2 separate regions of the Homo sapiens genome follow, and region 1 is linked to region 2. The links come from fine-mapping of genetic effects on gene expression. A gene starts in region 2. The other region holds a variant in brackets. All regions are shown on one strand. Distances are between the middles of the regions. Region 1 has its middle 22 kb from the start of PTGES. Region 2 holds the start of PTGES (prostaglandin E synthase).

Evidence for each region. PIP is the estimated chance that this variant, and not a neighbour inherited with it, causes the effect.
Region 1: its variant is fine-mapped to the expression of PTGES in whole blood (INTERVAL, PIP above 0.99).

What each region holds. Positions count from the first base shown.
Region 1 is chr9:129,771,954-129,777,319 of GRCh38, forward strand. No RefSeq gene overlaps it. Among named protein-coding and RNA genes, the nearest start is that of PTGES, 22 kb to the left of the region's middle. RefSeq lists enhancers at 3,113-3,679, 5,071-5,366, 5,217-5,366. The variant C/A (reference allele first, on the strand shown) is at 3,067.
Region 2 is chr9:129,750,774-129,756,123 of GRCh38, forward strand. It overlaps PTGES (prostaglandin E synthase), which reads right to left and starts at 2,269. Exons shown (of 3, transcript NM_004878.5): 1 at 2,114-2,269. The coding sequence starts at 2,239.

The DNA of each region.
Region 1 (5,366 bases), 21 kb after region 2:
ACTGCACGTGTCAGTTGGACTCAATTTGGACTCACCACATTTTGGGCCCTCGGTGATCACACCTGGCTTGTAGCTGCCATATTGGGCAGCACAGTTCTATAAAAAGAGATGGGTGAGAGTTATTTACTTTTTACTACATAATAAAGTGTTCTAGGGCCAGGTGCAGTAGTGGCTCACACCTGTAATCCCAGCACTTTGGGAGGCCAAGGCAGAAAGACTGTTTGAGACCAGGAGTTCGAGACCCCATCTCTACAAAGAAACAAAAAGCTAGCCGGCCATGGTGGCACAGGCCTATAGTCCCAGCTACTCGGGAGGCTGAAGCAGGAGGATTGCTCCAACCCAGAAGCTCGAGGCTGCAGTGAGCTATGATCATGCCTGTGAATAGCCACTGCACTCCAGCCTGGGCAACATGGCAAGAGCCCATCTCAAAAACAAAACAAACAATACAAAGATGAAGCTGCCTTTGAGGGAGGTGCCCAAGTCGCGGGCTGATTTTGAGCAAGCTGGTCTTAAAGGTCACCTCTACAAACTCTAACTTAATGCAGAAAGAGCAGCAAAAATCACTCTTCCCTCCATCTGTGAAATGGGAAATGTTAAAAAAGAAACAAAAACAAAAACAAAAAAAACTCCCCTTTCCATCCAAGATAATAATCCCAAACTAGGGGCTGAGTTTCACTGTTTGAAAAGTGCTTATTTTCTGTAACCACTTCATGCATTAAGCTTTCTTTTTTCTTTTTTTTTTTTTCTGAGATGGAGTCTTGCTCTGTCACCCAGGCTGGATTACAGTGGTGTGATCTCAGCTCACTGAAACCTCCGCCTCCTGGGTTCAAGCGATTCTCCTGCCTCAGTCTCCGGAGTAGCTGGGATTACAGGTGCCTGCCACCACGCCCGGCTAATTTTTTGTATTTTTAGGAGAGACAGCGTTTCACTATGCTGGCCAGGCTAGTCTCGAACTCTCACCTCAAGTGATCCACCCACCTTGGCCTCCCAAAGTGCAGGGATTACAGGCGTGAATCAGCGTACCCTGCCACATTAAACCTTTTTTTTTTTTAGACAGAGTCTGGCTCTGTCACCATGCTGGAGTGCAGTGGTATGATGTTGGCTCACTGCAACCTCCGCCTCCCAGGTTCAAGTGATTCTCTTCCCTCAGCCTCCTAAGCAGCTGGGACTACAGGCGTGCGCCACCACACCTGGCTAATTTTTGTATTTTTAGTAGAGACAGGGTTTCACCATGTTGGCCAGGATGGTCTCGATCTCTTGATCTCATGATCCACCCACCTCGGCCTCCCAAAGTGCTGGGATTACAGGTGTGAGCCACCGCACCCAGCCACATTAAACTTTCTTGACCCATTTGCAGACAAGGGGAATCCGAGTCCTGGAGAGGCCAAGTAACCTGCCCACGATGGCCCATCAGCTAAGGAGCAGGAAGGAGAGAAGCTCTGAGCCCCTGCCTGGTTACCACCAGGCTCTACTGCTTCCTAGCTGAGCACCATACTGAGCCTCACTTCTTCCTTCTCTAAAATGGACATGATAATAGACCTTCCTCCTAGGATTACTGAGATAGTCCAGGTAGGAAATCATACCTGGTGTTACATGTAAGCTATCACTGCTATTGGTATTGCTGTTGTTATTTCAACAACTGAGACTCAACCAGGCCAGGCTAATCCCAGAGGCAAAGCTTTTATGCAGAGGACAAGCTTTTAACCAGTCCCACCAGCTAAAAGGGGTAGAAAGTGAGTAAACCAACCACATTTACTCTGAGACAGTCAACAAATACACAGCAGCCGCTTAGGACACACAAGGAAGTTAACTCATCCCCCTCATGACCTTGGGTCGCCAGGGTTAGATGTGCTTCTGCCAACATAGCCCGAGGAGGAGGGAGTGTTTTGTGGGAGCCGCTTAACACCCTGTCCTCCGCACCCGGTGAGGTCAGCACCCACTTTCCCACAACTATTGGGTAAACATACACCCAGCAAACCCTGCCTGAGGCCCAGGGCCAGGGACTCACGTGTGAAGGTCTGCAGCCTTCCACTGACTATTAGTGCAATGGGGTAGAGACTGGTAGAGAAAGCATTGTCTCAGGCTGGGTGCAGTGGCTCATGCCTGTAATCTCAGCACTTTGGGAGATCGAGGCAGGAGGATCACTTGAGCCTTAGGAGTCTGAGACCAGCCTGGGCAATACAGGGAGATCTTGTCTCTACAAAAAGTTAAAAAAAAAAAAAATAGCCAGGCATGGTGGTGTATGTCTGTGGTCCTAGCTACTTAGGAGGCTGAGGAGGGAGGATCACTTGAGGCTGGGAGGTCGAGGCTGCAGTGAGCCATGATCATGCCACTGCACTCCAACCTAGGTGCAAGAAAGAAAGAAAAGAAAGAGAGAAAGAGAGACAGAGAGAAAGAAAGAAAGGAAGAAAAAAGAAAGAAAGAAAGAAACAAAGAAACAAACAAACAAAGAAGGAAGGAAAGAAACAAAGAAAGAAAGAAACCAACAAAGAAAGAAAGAAAGAAGGAAGGAAGGAAAGAAAGAAAGAAACAAAGAAAGAAAGAAAGAAAGAAAGAAAGAAAGAAAGAAAGAAAGGAAGGAAGGAAGGGGAGAGAGAAGGAAGGGAGGGAGGGAGGGAGGGAGGGAGGAAGGAAGAAAGGGAGGGAAGGATGGGTTTGTCTCTCAACGTAAGAACCAAAATGAAGACATGTGTGTCTACCAGGTGAGGAGAGAAGTACGGAGAAGAAAGGGGAGGGTTGGTGGGTCCCCCAGGAGCCTGGTTGGCTGGTTGGAAACCAGAGGGTGTACTGGACAAGGCCCAGAATGCGGACCTGCCTGGGCCCCAATAAGGGGTCCCTCCCCATCCACAGGTAGACGCATCGCCCCGAGGTAGACACATGTCCCCTAGGGAAGAAGCCTTCGGCTACTCCTCACGTGCAAGTCACATGCTCCTCTCCCTGCTGGCACCACCATGGCCACAGCTGATGGGCAGGGGTGAGCACCTGGCTGCAAGCAGCCAATGGCGAGGCCAGCCAGCAGCCAATGAAATCAACAGCCCGATGTGGGCCTGGGCTGAGACCCACCCC[C/A]CAGAGGAGGCTGGGCTCGTGGCCAAGGACTCGGCTGCCAGCAGCAGGAGCGGCCACAAGAATGTGTACCCCTGGGGATGACAAGAAGCCCCTACAGTGAAATCCACTTCGGCTCTTCACGGGCCCTGGGGTCTTCACCTGGGTCCTGTGCCCACGAGGTCTTGGGCCCCAGCATCCTCACAGTAAACCCCTTTATCCCGGGGTCCTCAGTGCACGTCTGGCCCAGCAACGGCAATGAAACCAACAAACTGCCACACACTAGAGCTGGGTCCTGCGGCTCTGCCACCTGCTCTGTCAAACGCTGGGGTCCCCAGAAGCCACGGCCCCTGCCAAAGGTCATTTTGGGTCTCATTTGTCATCTGGGTACTTAGGGTAAAACGATATTTTCTGTGCAAGCCCCTCATTGCTTCCCTGTCTCTCCCATCCCCTAACTCCACCACCATGAAGGCCTCCCTGCTCTCACCCACTCCAAGAGCTGGATTTTCCCTGGCACAGAGAGCATAGCACCGACCCAGACAAGCCCTTTGCCACATGCGTCCTGCCAGGCATGATTCTGGCCACAAGGATGCATCAACTGCCACTGGAGCTGTGGGTGTGTTGTCACTGTGAAGCACATTGCAGCAGCAGCTGAGAGGAGAGACCAACCAGCACCCTGGGGAGGGGGCTGCATGCAGAGGTTGGGAAGTCACACTTTGGCTTCAAGCCAAGCAGAAGATCTGGCCCAAGAAAACAGGCTCATACCTCCTGGACAGGGTGGCCAAGAGACAGAGCTTCAGCTCAGGCTGGGACGCCAGTTGGGCAATAAAATTAATGACAATAATTATTATTATATAACAATGTTGATGACATTACTGGCCAACTTTACCTGCCAGACACTATGCTTGGTGCTTTATGTAGATCAGTTCATTGCCCTCATGTAGCAATCCTAGGAGGTGGGTCTATTATTATCTCTATTTTATTTTATTTTATTTTATATTTTTTAGAGGCAGAGTCTTGCTCTGTCACCCAGGCTGGAGTGCAATGGTGTGATCTTGGCTCACTGCAACCTCTGGCTCCCAGTCTCAAGCAATTCTCCTGCCTCAGCCTCCCGAGTAGCTGGGACTTCAGGTGCGTGCCACCACACCTGGCTAATTTTTTTTGTATTTTTTAGTAGAGACAGGGTTTCACCATGTTTGCCAGGCTGGTTTTGAACTCCTGACCTCAGGTGATCCACCTGCCTTGGCCTCCCAAAGTGCTGGGATTACAGGCATGAGCTACCTCGCCCGGCCTAATATCCCCATTTTAGAGATGAGAAAATTGAGGTTCAGAGGAGTGACATGACTTAACCAATGTCTGTGCTAAACTACAGTAAGATAGATAGATAGATAGATAGATAGATAGATAGATAGATAGATAGATAGATAGATAGATACCTATGTCTAACTACCTACCTACCTACCTATTGACCTATCTACCTACCTACCAACCTGCCTATCTCTCTATCTATGTGATATATATGAAAAAGACTCTTCAGAGAACTGACTCTGCTGATGCCCAGAATAGGGTGCGGGAGACTCATCAAGCTGATCTCCCATGCTGGGCCCAGCTGGATGTTCTGACTTTACCCAGAGTATCCAGATTTCAATTAACTATCTCGGAACCACAGTAAAGGAGCGTGTGCGCTATAGTTGATTGCTCAGCCCGAGCACAGGGCTGGGTAATCTTACTCCCAGAGGGTTCTGAGGTTGGAGCCTGGAATGGACCAGCTCTCTCCCTTGCCATTCAGCCCCACCCCCACCCCTGGAGCCAGGGACTCAAGCAGCCCAGCTTGACAGTCCTGGGAGGCCTGACCCCCGGCTGGGATCTCGTCATCAGCAATGCACCCAGGCTCTGGGGACAGCATGGTCTAGGGCCTCTGAATTGGCCATTATCCTAGCGGGAAGAAATGCTTCTCCCTCCAGGCTGAAAGCTGTCTTTGCTCCCAGTGATCACTTGCTCCCCAGCTCTGCACAGATTGACCCGCACACCTAGGCAGGCAAACACAGCAGTCCTAAGACCAAGAGCCAGGGTGAGGCCCTGGCAGAACAGCCATTGGAATGGGATGCCGGAGTGTCCCCAGATGGCGCCCGGGGGTGGGGTGGACCTCTTGCCACAGCAGAGTCTCCAACTGGAGCCTGGGGTTCACCCAAGACAGCCGTGGCCCTCCCTCTCACCACTTACCCCGTCCCCAGGCGCCTCTGCCTGAGCTCATCAGGCAATGACCGCAGTGACGTCACCCGGGAGGCCACGGCCAGCTTGAAATCCAGGGAGCTCCAGGATCC
Region 2 (5,350 bases):
TGAGGACACTGAGCTCCCAGACTTTTCCAGGTCCCCAGGCTGGTGGGTGGAGGAGCCAGGGCCTGTGACTGTCACCTCCAGCAAGTCCTTCCTGGATGATACTTAGCGCCCAGAGCAGAGATAAGAGGGGGCCACGTTGTCATGAGGAACACCTCAGGAGCAGCCCAAGGAGTGGGGGTTTCCTTCTGCGGTGTCCCTGCCAATCAGGCAGAAAGGCTCTGGGACAGGTTCACCTCCTCCCTTCCCCGAATTCGTGTTAAAAGGAAATCACAGCTGGGCACAGTGGCTCACACCTGTAATCCCAGAACTCCAGGAGGCCAAGATGGGAGGATCACTTGAGCCCAGGAGTTTGAGACCAGCCTGGGCAACATGGCAAAAGCCATCTCTACCAAAAACATAAAAAATTAGGAGCAGTGACGCACACCTATAGTCCCAGCTACTTGGGAGGCTGAAGTGGGAGGATCACCTGAGCCCAGGAAGTCGAGGCTACAGTGAGCTATGATCGCACAATTGCACTCCAGCCTGGGCCACAGAGCAAGACCCTGTCTCTAAAATAAATAAATAATAATTAAAAAAAAAAAAAAAAAAGGAATCGCTGGCCTGCTGGTAAGAACCCAGGCCTCAGCCAGGTGCGGTGGCTCACGCCTGTAATTCCAACACTTTGGGAGGCTGAGGCGGGTGGATCACCTGAGGTCAGGGGTTCAAGACCAGCCTGGCCAACATGGTGAAACCCCATCTCTACTAAAAATACAAAAATTAGCAGGGCATGGTGGTGTGTGTCTGTAATGCCAGCTACCGGGGAGGCTGAGGCAGTAGAATTGCTTGAACCCAGGAGGTGGAGGTTGCAGTAAGCAGAGATCATGCCGCTGCACTCCAGCCTGGACAGCAGAAAAAAAAAACAAAACAGAAACCCCCGCCTCCAAGACAGGATGTGGGCTCTGAAGCTGGACACTGGAGTTCAAACCGGGCTGTGTGACCTTCATAAGTGATGTCTCCTCTCTGAGCCCAGGTTCCTCACCTAGAAAACAGGATGACTATGGCGCCTCCCCTGCCCTCAGGGCTGTGGCGGGGATCTCATGCTCAGCTCCGGGCCACATTCGGTCCTCTGGGAAGGATTCAATGAGTGAATGCAGCTGTTCTACTTGATGCCCGGATCCCATATCCCAGGACCAGCCAAGGCAGGGAGAAGTCAGAAGCTATCAGTGTGCTGTAGCCTCCGGGCATCCTATCACTTGGGCAGCTGCCCTGCCTTTAATCCTGCCTGTACCTGCAGCAGGGCCTGAGCCTGGCTTGTGGCCAAGATCCTCACTCCCCAGGATCCACCCGCATGCAGTGCCAGAGCCAGCCTTGCCTCACCTCGCCTTTGAACTGGACACAGGGGAAGACAGAGACAGTTTCAGGAAATGATTGCTTTATTAAAATACCTGGGGAGGAAGTAACAGGTGCCTGGGGTCTTTCTGCATTCTGCCGCCAGGACAGCCGACAAGCTCAGCCTATGACTTTGCAGACTCGCCAACCAGTGTGACGGACGCTACTGGAACTTGCCCCGGCCCAGCTCTGGGACTCGTTAATGTTGTTTTGGTTCAGGGGCTCGGATTAGTGGGGAAATTCCTCGCTGAGCACCCCGACGGTGCCCGGCTGGGAGCTGGCCTTTGGAGGCTACAGTGGGCTTGTTAGTGACATTTGCCAGGAGTTGGGAATTTCCACTTAAACGTTTCTCGGACTCCTGTTTTGCCGGTTCCCACTCCACCCAGATATCAGACCTCCCGTGCCGGGAAGCCACCAGGTTAGACAGAGGCTTTGTGCTGTCACGCTCCCACACTCCACCCTCCAGAACCTGCTTCTCTCACAGACACTCGCTGGCTCTCTCCATGCCAAGAACTCAGCCCGGTGGCACGGCAAGCGAGTAAGTGCTCTTAAGCCAGAGAGGAGAAGGTGCAGGCCTTGCTGACACGTGGGACTGGCAGGAAGCCCCCCGGCGGGGCTGGAAGAGGTGCTCACCTCCCAGCCCTGCACACACCTTGGCCATGTTTCCCTATCCCGGGGCTTTCCTGACAGGACGTGGAGAGAAGCAAGTATGACCCAGGCCGGGGACCCCCAGGGAGGCACATACCTTCTTCCGCAGCCTCACTTGGCCCGTGATGATGGCCACCACGTACATCTTGATGACCAGCAGCGTGCTGCAGAGCAGGAAGGCCGGGAGGGCCGGGCTGCTCATCACCAGGCTGTGGGCAGGCATCTCTGGCCAGCGCAGCTCAACTGTGGGTGTGATCAGCTCGACAGAGGAGCAGCCTGCAGGGAAAGCACAAAGTGGGAGGGGAGAGCCTTCCTGCAGCCAGCACCGCCCACGCCCCGCCCCACGGCAGCGGCAGCAGGGCCCCCTTCTCCTGTGAAGAGAAAGACAAGCAGTTGCCGGAGCTCCAAGAAGCAGAGAGTCTCCGGGTGTCCCGGACCCAGTCCCTGGCTCTGGAGCCCTCCTTCCAGGCAAATCCTCAAACACTTTCAAATCTGTTTCAAAGCTGTTTCCTTATCTACAGTGTGGGAGCATGTGGTGGTGCCTGCCTTCTAGGGAATGATGAGGCTGGGCACCTGGCAGGACCTCTGCACGTGGTGATTATCGCTGCCTCCTGCCCACCTCCGCAGGGTCAGGGTAGGTGGTGGGCATGAGAACCACGCCATGCGCCCCCACACTCAGCCTGGACAATGGAGCTGCAGCCACAATGGCATGACTTTGCCATCTGTGGCAGGCTGAAGGACGCCCTCCACCCCTAAAGACATCCATGTCCCAATCCCTAGAACCCGTGACTGTGACTATGTGGCAAAAGGGACTTTTCACATGGGATTTCGTAAGGATTTGAGATGGGAGAAATTATCCTAGTTTATCTGGGTGAGCCCAGAGTATACAGAGGGGCCCTTCCAAGAGGGAGGCAGTAAAATTAGAGAAAAGATATAAAAACAGAGGCAGCATTAAGAGAGGAGATGAAAGGACAGAATAGGGGTCAGACAGGAGAGACGCTAACCTGCTGGCCTTGAAGATGAAGGAGAGATCATGGCCCAAGGAATACCAGGGGCCTCTAGAAACTGGAAAAGGGGACGAAACAAACTCTCTGCGTTCAGACAGAACGCAGCCCTCCCGACACTTTGATTTTAGCCCTGTGAGACCCATTTCAGGCTTCATCCACCAGAACTGTCAGAGAATGAAGCTGTGTTGTTTTAAGCCACTAAGTCTGTGGTAATTTGCTATAGCAGGGATGGGGAACCAGCACGTGGCTCCACTGACTTCCTGAGCATCACTTGACTATCCTGGAACTCTTTCCCCAGTCAAATGCTTTGATTCTTCATCACAAGATCTCCCCGAAAGACCTATCAACTGACTCTTCAGTAGAAAGCATCACCAGGCCGGGCGCGGTGGCTCACACCTGTAATTCCAGCCCCTTGGGAGGCCAAGGGGGACAGATTACCTGAAGTCAGAAGTTCAAGACCAGCCTGGGCAACATAGGGAGACTCCGTCTCTACAAAAAAATGTTTTAATTAGCTGGGCATGGTGGTGCTCGCCTGTATTCCCAGCTACTCAGGAGGCTGAAGTGGGAGGATCACCTGAACCCAGGAGGCTGAGGCTGCAGTGAGCCATGTTCTCACCACTGCACTCTAGCCTGGGTGACAGAGCAAGACCCTGTCTCAAAAAAGAAAGAAAGCATCAACGTTTGTTTTCTAAGATTCTTTGAATCCCTCACCTCAAAATCCTCACCTTGGCCAGGTGGCTCACACATGTAATCCCAGCACTTTGGGAGGCCGAGGGGGGCAGATTATCTGAGGTCAGAAGTTCGAGACCAGCCTGGCCAACGTGGTGAAATCCCCTCTCTACTAAAAATACAAAAATTAGCCAGATGTGATGGCAGACACCTGTAATCCCAGCTACTTGGGAGGCTGAGGCGGGAGAATCGCTTCAACCTGGGAGGTGGAGGTGCAGTGAGCCAAGATTGCACCACTGTACTCCAGCCTGGGCGACAGACCGAGACTCTGTCTCAAAAAAAATCCTCACCTTGCTGCATCCTGCCCGCTTCCCCGGGTTCTGGCAGGACCTCCACAAGGTCAGGGATCTTTTTTTTTTTTTCTTGTGAGACAGACTCCTGCTCTATCACCCAGGCTGGAGTGCAATGGCGTGATCTCTGCTCACTGCAACCTCCACCTCCAGGTTCAAGCAATTCTCCTGCCTCCGCCTCCCAAGTAGCTAGGACTACAGGTGCCCACCACCACGCCCAGATAATTTTTGTATTTTTAGTAGAGACGGGGTTTCACCATGTTGGCCAGGATGGTCTCAATCTCTTGACCTTGTGATCCACCCACCTCGGCCTCCCAAAGTGCTGGGATTACAGGCATGAGCCACCGCACCTGGCCAAGGGCAGGGATCTTGTACACGGTTCTTGCTCATTTATTTTCGCCAACATATTTGGCTTTGCTGAGAGGTGCCCTGGGGAAGTGGGGCAAAGGGGAAAGGGAGAAACCAGTCTCCCATGCCTACTTCACTCTTGGGCTTGACCAGGTGCTTTGGGACAGCACCTGCCCAGAGAGACAGCTGTGTCAGTCCAACCTATGCCCCAAAGCAGCAGAGATCAAAGGGAAGATTGGCCAGAGCTAGATTTAGCCAGCCTCGAATCCCAAAGCCAGCCCTCAGCTGTAGCTGTGTGGCCTTAGGCAGGCAGGTTCCTCCTCTGAACCAGTTTCCTCAGCTGTAAAATGCAGCTGACCCTAAGTCACTCCCCAGCGCAGTTGTGGGAGCTAAATAATTATGAAGCCCCTGGAACAAGTAGGCACTCCGTTCAGTATCATCCTCTGAGCTTCCGTTTCCTCCTGCTCAAAGGGAATAATGATCCCTACCTAGTAGGGTTGTCAGGAGGGAGACTCATAGAAATCCCTGCCCTTGTTGCTGGGGGAGGTGGGTGTGAGCAAGGTGGGGGTGGTGCCTTGCCCATTTGCTGTGTGCCAAGCAGTCCTTTATCCGAACAAAAGATGTGCTTGATAAACTGACTCCCGTGGGGAACTGCCAGGCCAGGCTGTCCCGGCCCCACAAGATAAATGATAGGTCACCATACCATCAGGGACGGAACATGGAAAGTACAAGATGCCCTGAGACACGTTTTATCTCTGGTTGTCTGTTGGAGGAGCTGTGCAAGCTCGCTTCTGGCTGATATTTCTGTCGGAGAAGAGAGAATCCCTGCCTCTCTCGCCCCCAGCCCGTGGGAACCCCTGCAGGTAGCTACCTTCCTTGTCAAAAAGCTCAGCTATGAGGTTGGGGTCTGGTGGCTGTACCACCCCCAGAATCGTGGACCAGACACAGCCCAGGAGGGGC